Linked DNA regions of Homo sapiens. The protein of the gene in region 1 purifies or fractionates together with the protein of each later gene. This does not show direct contact. Each region holds a gene or a part of one and is shown in the gene's direction. Other genes may lie near its edges.

Evidence for each region.
Region 2: the proteins of NEMF (region 1) and POLR1B fractionate together in Homo sapiens (co-fractionation; one large-scale study listed by BioGRID). This does not show direct contact.
Region 3: the proteins of NEMF (region 1) and COPB1 fractionate together in Homo sapiens (co-fractionation; one large-scale study listed by BioGRID). This does not show direct contact.

The regions. Positions count from the first base shown.
Region 1 is NC_000014.9:49,797,137-49,800,794, reverse strand, and holds part of NEMF (ribosome quality control complex subunit NEMF), read left to right. Parts: intron 1-98; coding exon 99-375; intron 376-1,116; coding exon 1,117-1,159; intron 1,160-1,270; coding exon 1,271-1,320; intron 1,321-3,658. UniProt on the Homo sapiens protein: Key component of the ribosome quality control complex (RQC), a ribosome-associated complex that mediates the extraction of incompletely synthesized nascent chains from stalled ribosomes as well as their ubiquitin-mediated proteasomal degradation.
Region 2 is NC_000002.12:112,545,365-112,549,022, forward strand, and holds part of POLR1B (DNA-directed RNA polymerase I subunit RPA2), read left to right. Parts: intron 1-300; exon of another isoform or gene 301-558; intron 559-1,647; coding exon 1,648-1,815; intron 1,816-2,056; coding exon 2,057-2,203; intron 2,204-3,658. UniProt on the Homo sapiens protein: Catalytic core component of RNA polymerase I (Pol I), a DNA-dependent RNA polymerase which synthesizes ribosomal RNA precursors using the four ribonucleoside triphosphates as substrates.
Region 3 is NC_000011.10:14,459,302-14,461,859, reverse strand, and holds part of COPB1 (coatomer subunit beta), read left to right. Parts: intron 1-528; coding exon 529-674; intron 675-1,562; coding exon 1,563-1,652; intron 1,653-2,558. UniProt on the Homo sapiens protein: The coatomer is a cytosolic protein complex that binds to dilysine motifs and reversibly associates with Golgi non-clathrin-coated vesicles, which further mediate biosynthetic protein transport from the ER, via the Golgi up to the trans Golgi network.

The DNA.
Region 1 (3,658 bases):
ATATGGGAGAAACAGTGGAATATTTTTATGACATTTTTAGGAAATCACCTGGCTTGGTTGGTAGTCCCACACTGACTTTCCTTATGATAATTCTACAGATGGAGGTGACACGAGCAGTGATGAGGATAAAGAAGAACATGAAACTCCTGTGGAAGTAGAACTCATGACTCAGGTTGACCAAGAGGATATCACTCTTCAGAGTGGCAGAGATGAACTAAATGAGGAGCTCATTCAGGAAGAAAGCTCTGAAGACGAAGGAGAATATGAAGAGGTTAGAAAAGATCAGGATTCTGTTGGTGAAATGAAGGATGAAGGGGAAGAGACATTAAATTATCCTGATACTACCATTGACTTGTCTCACCTTCAACCCCAAAGGTAATTAAAAAATAAAATTTTACATATTATTGTGTAAGCTGAGAATGATGATGAGGTAATCCTTACAAAGATAATACCAAGATTGACATCAGTACTTTTACACTCCATTGTCTTAATACTTTTTCAACATTTGATTGGGTCTCTCTGCAAAGAAATTCCCAGGACCAGGGTAGAAAAATACAGTGCATATAGAGTGGCCAAACTAGATCCAAATAGAAACAAGTAAATGGTTATAAATGCTAAAAACATAACAAAGGCAATTCCATCAAAGAAATGTGTTTTAGTCTATATAATGTTTTGCAGATCATCAGGTGAATAGTCCATAGTTATAAATGCATAATTAACTTAGGGGTAATTCAGAACAGTCTAGGAGTCAGACAGACCAGTATTGGGTCTTAGGGTGCGTCCTTGGGAAAATTACTTTGTGCTTAAGCTTCAGTTTCCTTCTTGGTGAAAACAGAATGGTATCCCTTTCATAGGGATTTGGTGAAGGTTTCATGCGTGTATACCATCTGGCAGTGCCTGACACACAGTAAGTTTTCAATACACGTCACCTATTTAAAAATGTATATGGAAGTGTGGAGAGAGGAGCAATTTGGTTGTATGTTTTTCTCACTTCACCAAATTTGAAAATTTGTTGGATTGCCAGTACTTAAGAGTATGATATGGGAATGTTTTGGGACTTTGTAAATGCATGTCTTTTACAGGCTAGTAGAGACTCCCTTGTGTTTATTTTCATAGGTCCATCCAGAAATTGGCTTCAAAAGAGGAATCTTCTAATTCTGTAAGCTATTTTCAGTTTTATGAAGAACATCCGATTCTCAGTGAATAATTTTCTACTTTTCAAAAAAGTTAATAGTGATATTTGCATTTGCCTGTTTTTTTGTTTTAATAGAGTGACAGTAAATCACAGAGCCGGAGACATTTGTCAGCCAAGGAAAGAAGGTAAACACATCTGTGTTAATTAACTAAAAAGCATGTTTTTCTTTTTTTTTTAATTGATAGCTCAGCTACCACAGATTACTTAGCTGTTTAAAGACTTCCTTCATTAAATTTACCAAGATTTAGCACAAATGTTTAGTTTTTAATATTAAGCTCTAATACATTTTTCTGTTTAAGGGCCCTAATCTATAACTATAATCAATGAAATAGACCTAGTAGAGTAAGTCCTCACTTAACATTTTCCTTTTTTTTTTTTTTTTTTTTTTTTTTGAAACAGGGTCTCGCTTTGTTGCCCAGGCTAGAGTGCTATGGCGCAGTCATGGCTCACTGCAGCCTCAAACTCCCAGGCTCAGGCAGTCTCCTGCTTCAGCCTCCTGAGTAGCTGGGACTACAGGCGTGTGCCACTACAAAAATTTTTATAGTTTTTGTAGAGACAGGGTTTCATCATGTTGCCCAGGCTGGTCTTAAACCCCTGGGCTCAAGTGATCCTCCCACCTTGGCTGCCCAAAGTGCTGGGATTACAGACATGAGCCATTGTGCCCGGCCTTCACTTAACATTTTCTTTTTTTTTGAGATGGAGTCTCGCTCTGTCGCCCAGGCTGGAGTGCAGTGGCATGATCTCGGCTCACTGCAAGCCCCACCTCCCGGGTTCACGCCGTTCTCCTGCCTCAGCCTCCCGAGTAGCTGGGACTAGAGGCGCCCACCACCATGCCCGGCTAATTTTTTGTATTTTTAGTAGAGACGGGGTTTCACCGTGTTAGCCAGGATAGTCTCGATCTTCTGACCTCGTGATCACCCGCTTTGGCCTCCGAAAGTGCTGGGATTATAGGCATAAGCCACCGCGCCTGGCCCACTTAACATTTTCAATAGGTTCTTGGAAACTTGGACTTAAGGGAAACAGTGTGTAATGAAACCAGTTTTGCCATGGGCTAATTGATATAAACAAGAGTTAAGTTCCTCTGGCATATTTTTGGTCACAAAACCATCACCAAGCTTCTAAATAAAGACTGAAAACTCTTCTAATATTAAACGTTAAAATAAATGTAAACTGTATGTATATTTAAGAAAGATGAATGAAAGCGAGCAAGATAATTATTTACCCAATTTTTGGTAAATCAATGAGTGATGGCAGTTGTAGTGGTAGTGGGTTAAATCAAGGATTATTTGCAAAGTGAAAACTATAGAGTACCTCCTACTACCATGAGGTTCAAAAACAAAAATGTGGCACATTCATTAAACACTTTCATACTACATTGTTGATTGTTATACATTTGTATGACTATAGTTTATGAATTTTTGACAATCATTTTTATTAAGTCATTCATTCATTCATTCATTCGTTTTTCAACCGCTTATTCCAGTTAAGGGTCATTGGTGGCTAGAGCCTATCCTGGCAGGTCAGGGCAAAAGGCCAGAACCAACCTAGAACAGGATGTCATTCTGTTGCAGGGCACACATACCTGCACTCATTCATGCTGGGATAATTTACACACACCAGTTAACCTGACATGCGCATTTTGGGATGTGAGAGAAAACCTGAGTACCTGGTGAAAACCCACAAAGACATGGGGAGAACATGTAAACTCTGCACAGATGGTAGCCGTGGCCAGGAATCAATTTTGTTCTCATCAAAGTTATAACACAATGATGTTGAATGAAATGATGTTATTTGAGGACTAGCTCTAATAAGACCTTTTATTACATAAACATGTACAATAATGATTTCAGTGTATTACATAGACTAGTTCTAGGGTGATATTGTCAGGAATAAATATGAATACCTGAAATTAGGAAAGTTTTATGTAAGGCAGAATAGTTGATTTTTTGTTTTTTGTTTTTTTTGAGACGGAGTCTCGCTCTGTGGCCCAGGCTGGAGCGCAGTGGCTGCGATCTCGGCTCACTGCAAGCTCTGCCTCCCAGATTCATGCTATTCTCCTGCCTTAGCCTCCCGAGTAGCTGGGACTACAGGCACCCACCACCACGCCCGGCTAATTTTGTTTTTGTATTTTTAGTAGAGATGGGGTTTCACCGTGTTAGGCAGGATTGTCTCGATCTTCTGACCTCGCGATCCACCCGCCTTGGCCTCCCAAAGTGCTGGATTACAGGTGTGAGCCACCGCGCCTGGCCGATTTTTTTTTTTTTTTTAATAGCAGGTCTCAGGAAGCAAGTAGAAGCAAGGGAAGGGCGGAAGGGAAGGGAACAACTACTGTAGGGTGGGAAAGACTAAGCAAACTAAAGCACTCCAGGAAGAGGCCCTAGAACAGAATGGACAATAAAGCCTTTTCATTTGAGAAACATAATCATTGAACAATTACAGAGAATTCTGAGCACATAGCCCTGT
Region 2 (3,658 bases), on another chromosome or scaffold:
ACTCAATAATATGTATTAAATAAGCTGTCCTTAAACAGAAACACACATAATACAAGATTGTGTGTTGATCAGTTGATGAAATGTGACCAGAGGCTCGCAGGAAGCTAACCATGTATTTACCCTAGGAGCAGTGGTTCAGTATTGGCTAATTCAGTGTTTATGGCAACTGTATAGAACATAACTATTATGAATAATGACAGTTCACTGTATTTCCTTCTAAATAGTGCAGCTGCGTCTTGAGAAAGCAAATTGTCTAATCTCTCTTTTTTTAACTTCATTCTGTTTTTTTTTTTGAGACAGGATCTCACTTTGTCACCTAGGCTGGAATGCAGTGGCATGGTTATAGCTCACTGCAGCCTCGACCTTCCAGGATCAAGTGATCCTCCCACGTCAACCTCTTGAGTAGCTGGGACCACAGGCGTGCACCACTATGCCCGGCTAATTTTTTTATTTTTATTTTTTGTAGAGACGGGGTCTCCCTATGTGGCCCAGCCTGGTCTCAAACTCCTGAGCTCAAGTAGTCCTCCTCTCTCGGTCTCCCAAATATTGGGATTACAGGTATAAGCCACTGCATCTGGCTTTTATTTTTAAATAAAATATGAATTTCTAAAATAATACCAGCTTTAGATAACATTTTAAAATTTAGAAAAGGTAAGTTAACTCACGTGAAGGTGGAGAACCTCCTTGGTATTCTTTCTTGGTTCCATTTTTTCATTTTCATTATTCTAAGACTAAGTCTAGGAGGTTGCTTGTAATTAATATATAGGAGAGCTTGGTGATGCCCCTTCCTCAGAACAGCAAAGCTTCCCCTACAGAATGGTACAAAGAAGTAACTTCTGTGGAAGGGGAAACCCAGCCTGGCCACCATCTTTTCCTTTGCATGGCTCTGGCTTCAGTTTGACGTTGCCATTGTACATTAAGCATCTAGTCTTAAATCCTAAAGGATGTTTCCGTATCCTTGCTCTATTAGCAGTAGTCCCATTTGTCTTGCTATGCACATAGACAAGTTAAGAATACACAAGGCTCTTGGTTCAGAGAACAGGAATTTTGTTCTGTTCACAGCTGTATCCCTAGAGCCTACTACAGTCTCTGACACATGTGGTCACTCAAAACAATCTTGTACTAATAATGCTTTGTGGTTTTAAGTATTTAGTGAAGTTATGAGTAGACTGGAGGTAGCTTTTTTTTTTTTTTTTTTTTTTTTTTTTTTTTTTTGAGACGGAGTCTCGCTCTGTCGCCCAGGCTGGAGTGCAGTGGCGTGATCTCTGCTCACTGCAGGCTCTGCCTCCCGGGTTCACGCCATTCTCCTGCCTCAGCCTCCCGAGTAGCTGGGACTACAGGCGCCCACCACCACGCCTGGCTAATTTTTTTTGTATTTTTAGTAGAGATGGGGTTTCACCGTGTTAGCCAGGATGGTCTCGATCTCCTGACCTTGTGATCCTCCCACCTCGGCCTCCCAAAGTGCTGAGATTACAGGCGTGAACCACTGCGCCCGGCCAACTGGAGGTAGCCTTAACTGTCCTTTTTAGGTGTGTCATGGTGGCATCACAGGCATCAATGTTTGTAGAACACATAAGATTTGGAAGAGTCTTAGAGAAAAAATGCCTTGGAAATGCAAGCAATTTAATAGTGTGAATTGCATTTCAGGCTATACCTCCCTTTGAATTTGCTTTCAAAGATGAGCGTATCTCTTTTACTATTCTGGATGCTGTTATCAGTCCACCTACAGTTCCAAAAGGGACCATCTGCAAAGAGGCCAATGTTTATCCAGCAGAATGCCGGGGCCGAAGGAGTACCTACCGTGGGAAGTTGACAGTGAGTACTAGTGATACTGTGTGACTCTCAACACTGCACATATTTGGGAGTAGGGCGGGTGCCTAATAAAGTTTATGCCAGAAATTGCTTTCTTGGTGCTATTGTCTAAGAGATCCCACCTTCTAAATCTAAGGCATAAAATAATTTAATTGATCTTCTTCCTCAGTCTTTGAAAATACTCATTTGTTCTCGTAAATGCAGATATTTCTGTTAAGTAACTTTTTCTCTTGTTTTCATTTAGGCTGATATCAACTGGGCAGTGAATGGAATCTCAAAAGGAATCATTAAGCAGTTTCTTGGCTATGTTCCCATCATGGTGAAATCCAAGCTTTGCAACTTACGTAACCTTCCCCCACAAGCCCTCATTGAGCACCATGAGGAGGCAGAGGTAATGACGGGCGTCCAGGCATGAGACAGTAGAGAAGGCCTGGGTTGGGAGTAAGAAGACAAGAAGTGTGTCAGTGTTTTCTTTCTGTGCTCCAATTTCTGGATAGGTGAAAGAGATATCAGTATCTTGCCTGCATACAGTGTATGGCTCTGAATAACTATCAAATTAGACAGTATGAAAAAGTGGCTGTAAAATTAGAGAATATTATTGTTCGGGGGGAAGAACTGGTAGGTTTTTCCCTAATTTTCTGAATGATAGAGACATACTTCCACAAAATTTGTTTTTTTTTTCAAGCTGTCTTAATCCACAAAGCTATTGTCAAAAATGTCTATTTATCTGGGCATGGTGGTGGCATGGATCTGTAGTCCCAGCTAACTGGGAGGCTGAGGCGGGAGCATCAGTTGAGCCCAGGAGGCCTCACTACAGTGAGCCATGATTGTGCCACTGCACTCCAGCCCGGGAGACAGAGTGAGACCCCGTCACTAAAAAAGTGAAATAAAAATGTCTGCTTTGCTAACAGTAAGATTCTGTGCGCATATTAAATGACTTATATGCATTCCCTTCATCATTTCTTTCAGCTATATTAGGTGGCTTTGCAGAGTTGAGTTGAGGTAATCAAGATGAACAAACAGTGCCTACTAAATAGGTAGATGGTGTTATGTGGTGGGAAGAGGGTTTTGGTGTCAGATCTGGGTTTGACACACAGCTCTTCCGCTTATCAGTCTTGTGGTTTGGGGAAGTTAATCTCCCTGAGCCTCAGTTTCCTCTGCTGCAAGTGGGTATAATAGCTACCCCACTCATTGTTATGAGAATTAAATGTTATGATAACATAGAGCACCTACTATAATATGCCTGTTTCATAGTAGGCAATTCGTAAATAGTAGCTGTTTATTACAGAAATGTGATATTGAGCAGAGCTATTAAAAATATTTTTCTATTTAGCTAATCCAAATTTCTGGTTTCCAGAGCTTTCATACAATCAAGTTTTTGAACGTATTTGGGAAACCATACTCGTATGGAAGCAAAATGGTTACAGTTTTTATCTTTCTTTTTTTTTTTTTTTGAGACGGAGTCTCCCTCTCTCACCCAGGTTGGAGCGCAGTGGCGCAATCTTGGCTCACTGCAAGCTCCGCCTCCTGGGTTCAAGCCATTCTCCTGCCTCAGCCTCCCGAGTAGCTGGGACTACAGGCGCCCACTACCACGCCTGGCTAATTTTTTGTATTTTTAGTAGAGACGGGGTTTCACCGTGTTAGCCAGGATGGTCTTGATCTCCTGACCTTGTGATGCTCCTGTCTCGGCCTCCCAAAGTGCTGTGATTACAGGCGTGAGCCACCGCGCCCGGCCCAGTTTTTATCTTTCAACACCTCTTTGGAGTAAGTTTTTTTTAGTGTTATTTGAAGACTGAAGTCATTTTAGGGGACAGAAAGGCAAGATAGGTTGAGCCTGTCTGATAAA
Region 3 (2,558 bases), on another chromosome or scaffold:
TGGTATCCATAGGGGGTCCTGGAAGCAATTCCCCATTAATACTGAGGGATGACTAATCTTGTATCATTAAGTAGTATGGGTCAGCAATATTTATTCAAAAGTATTAGTTAAGTACCTCCTATGGGAACATCGTCCACTTGTATATCTGCTGCAGTGCCTAGTATGCTGCAACTGCTATGTAAGTACTCACTGAATTGAATTATTTGTTTAACCACAAAAAACAAAGTGTGCCTGAGTTCGAATCCTATCCCCACCACTTATCAGTTGTGTGATCTGGAACAACTTACTTAACTTCTCTGCTTTCATTTCCTCATATGTAAGATGGAAAATAATAATACTATCAGAATTGATGGGAGTATTAAACCAGTAATATTTATAAAGCATGTAGAATAGAGCTCTGTACATAATAAGTATTATATAAACAATCTTATTGTTAATAGTGTAGTTCTTTGGATATTTGGATATTAAGATTTTTTAAATTCAAGTTTGCCCCAGTGATTGCGAATCTTTTTGTATATGTAATTGCAGTTTATGATGTCTCTGGAGCAGCAAGTGACAGAAATTGTGTGGTTCTCAGTGATATTCACATCGACATCATGGACTATATCCAGCCTGCAACTTGCACTGATGCAGAATTCCGTCAGATGTGGGCCGAATTTGAATGGGAAAACAAAGTTAGTCCTTGGGAGATTTTCTCATATTCCTTTATCTTTCTTCCTTTTGCCTGCTGTTGAGGAGTCTGCTAATAAAATTAATCTCGCTAAAAAGTGTTTAACATGAAAAGCAAATAGTCTTTCAGTATCTGTTCTTGCAAATTAGCCTTAACTAAAAATCATGTAAGTAGTTTGGTAATTTGCTGTTATAAATTGATTAGAGTAGCAGTTCTATAGCCAATCTGATAGGTTTAGACATTATAGGTAATATTCCATCCCTTCTATGTATGACCAAGAGCTTACCATTTAATCTAGTGCCCGAAAAAGGCTTTACAAAGTTCATGGTCTGTTGAGGAACTTTGTCCCTTTGAGCCTTGACTTTTATTAGAAATATTCTATATGAGGCTGGGCACGGTAGCTCGTGCCTGTAATCCCAGCACTTTGGGAGGCTGAGGCAGGCAGATTGCTCGTGCTCAGGAGTTCTAGACCAGCCTGAGCAAAATGGTGAAACTCCATCTCTACAAAAAATACAAAAATTAGCCCGGTGTGGTAGTCCCAGCTACTCCGGAGACTGAGGTGGGAGGATCACTTGAACATGGGAGGTTGAGGCTGCAGTGAGCTGAAATGACGCACTGCACTCTAGCCTGGGTGACAGAGTGAGACCCTGTCTCAAAAAAAAAAAGAAATATTCTATATGCTTCATATTGAATCTCTGTGAAGTTATCTCTATTGGGAAGTACTGATACCAACCTACAGCTTGTTGGATTTTATAGATGTTATTTAGTTTCTTGGTGTCTACTCTTTCCAACCTAAACAGTTGGAACAAGTTTTTAATATGACATACTGGTGATTCACAGCTTTCTCATAGTAAGATTTATGATCTCCTTGACTTTTTTTTCCTCTCTACAGGTGACAGTTAACACCAACATGGTTGATTTAAATGACTACTTACAGCACATATTAAAGTCAACCAATATGAAATGCCTGACTCCAGAAAAGGTAAAATTTGACTAGGAAATTCAGAAATCTGATGGAATGGTAGAGTAGGTTCCTGGCCTTCCTGTATTTCCTCTAGCACATTTTTGTTATTCAATATGCAGTACCATTCTAGGCTATCTAAAAGATGTTATCCCATAGAATGTTGGAATCTGCTTACCTCTTTCTATTGGACTATACCATCCTACTTTTTCCTAGTGCAGTGACCCAACTGAATAGTCAGATTAATTTTTTTTTTATTTTCTTTTCAATCTTCTCCCCCATTCAGCTAGAGGCACATTCTAAAGTAGTTTATGCTGCACATGGTGGTTCATTCCTGTGATCCTAGCACTTTGAGAGGCTGAGGCGGGCAGATCACTTGAGGTCAGGAGTTTGAGACCAGCCTGGCCAATATGGCGAAACCCCATCTCTACTAAAAATACAAAAATTACCCAGGTGTGGTGGCACGTGCCTGTAATCCCAGCTACTTGGGAGGTTGAGGCAGGAGAATCACCTGAACCCCAGGGGGTGGAGGTTGCAGTGAGCCGAGATCACACCACTGCATTCCAGCGTGGGTGACAGAGTGAAACTCTGTCTCAAAAAGATAAATAAAATCGTTTATTTGTAATACTGGATTAGAAAATGTCCATGAGCTCTTCCGTGGGCTCTGATTGTTGGTTAAAATATATGTGCTCAAATACAGAATCGTTGTTATACTGTGACTTTTTGCTATGTTTGTGTATGTATGAAAAAAACGAGAGAGAAAGAAAAATGAAGCTGGAGCTCTAAGGAACTTTTTTCTTTATGTAAAATTTCTATAATGTTATAATATTCATTTTATAAATAAAATAATGTCTGCTACCAAACAAGTAGGTTTTAATTTATATATTAGTTTATTCAGCATATACTGAGTCCAACAAAAGTAGTCTC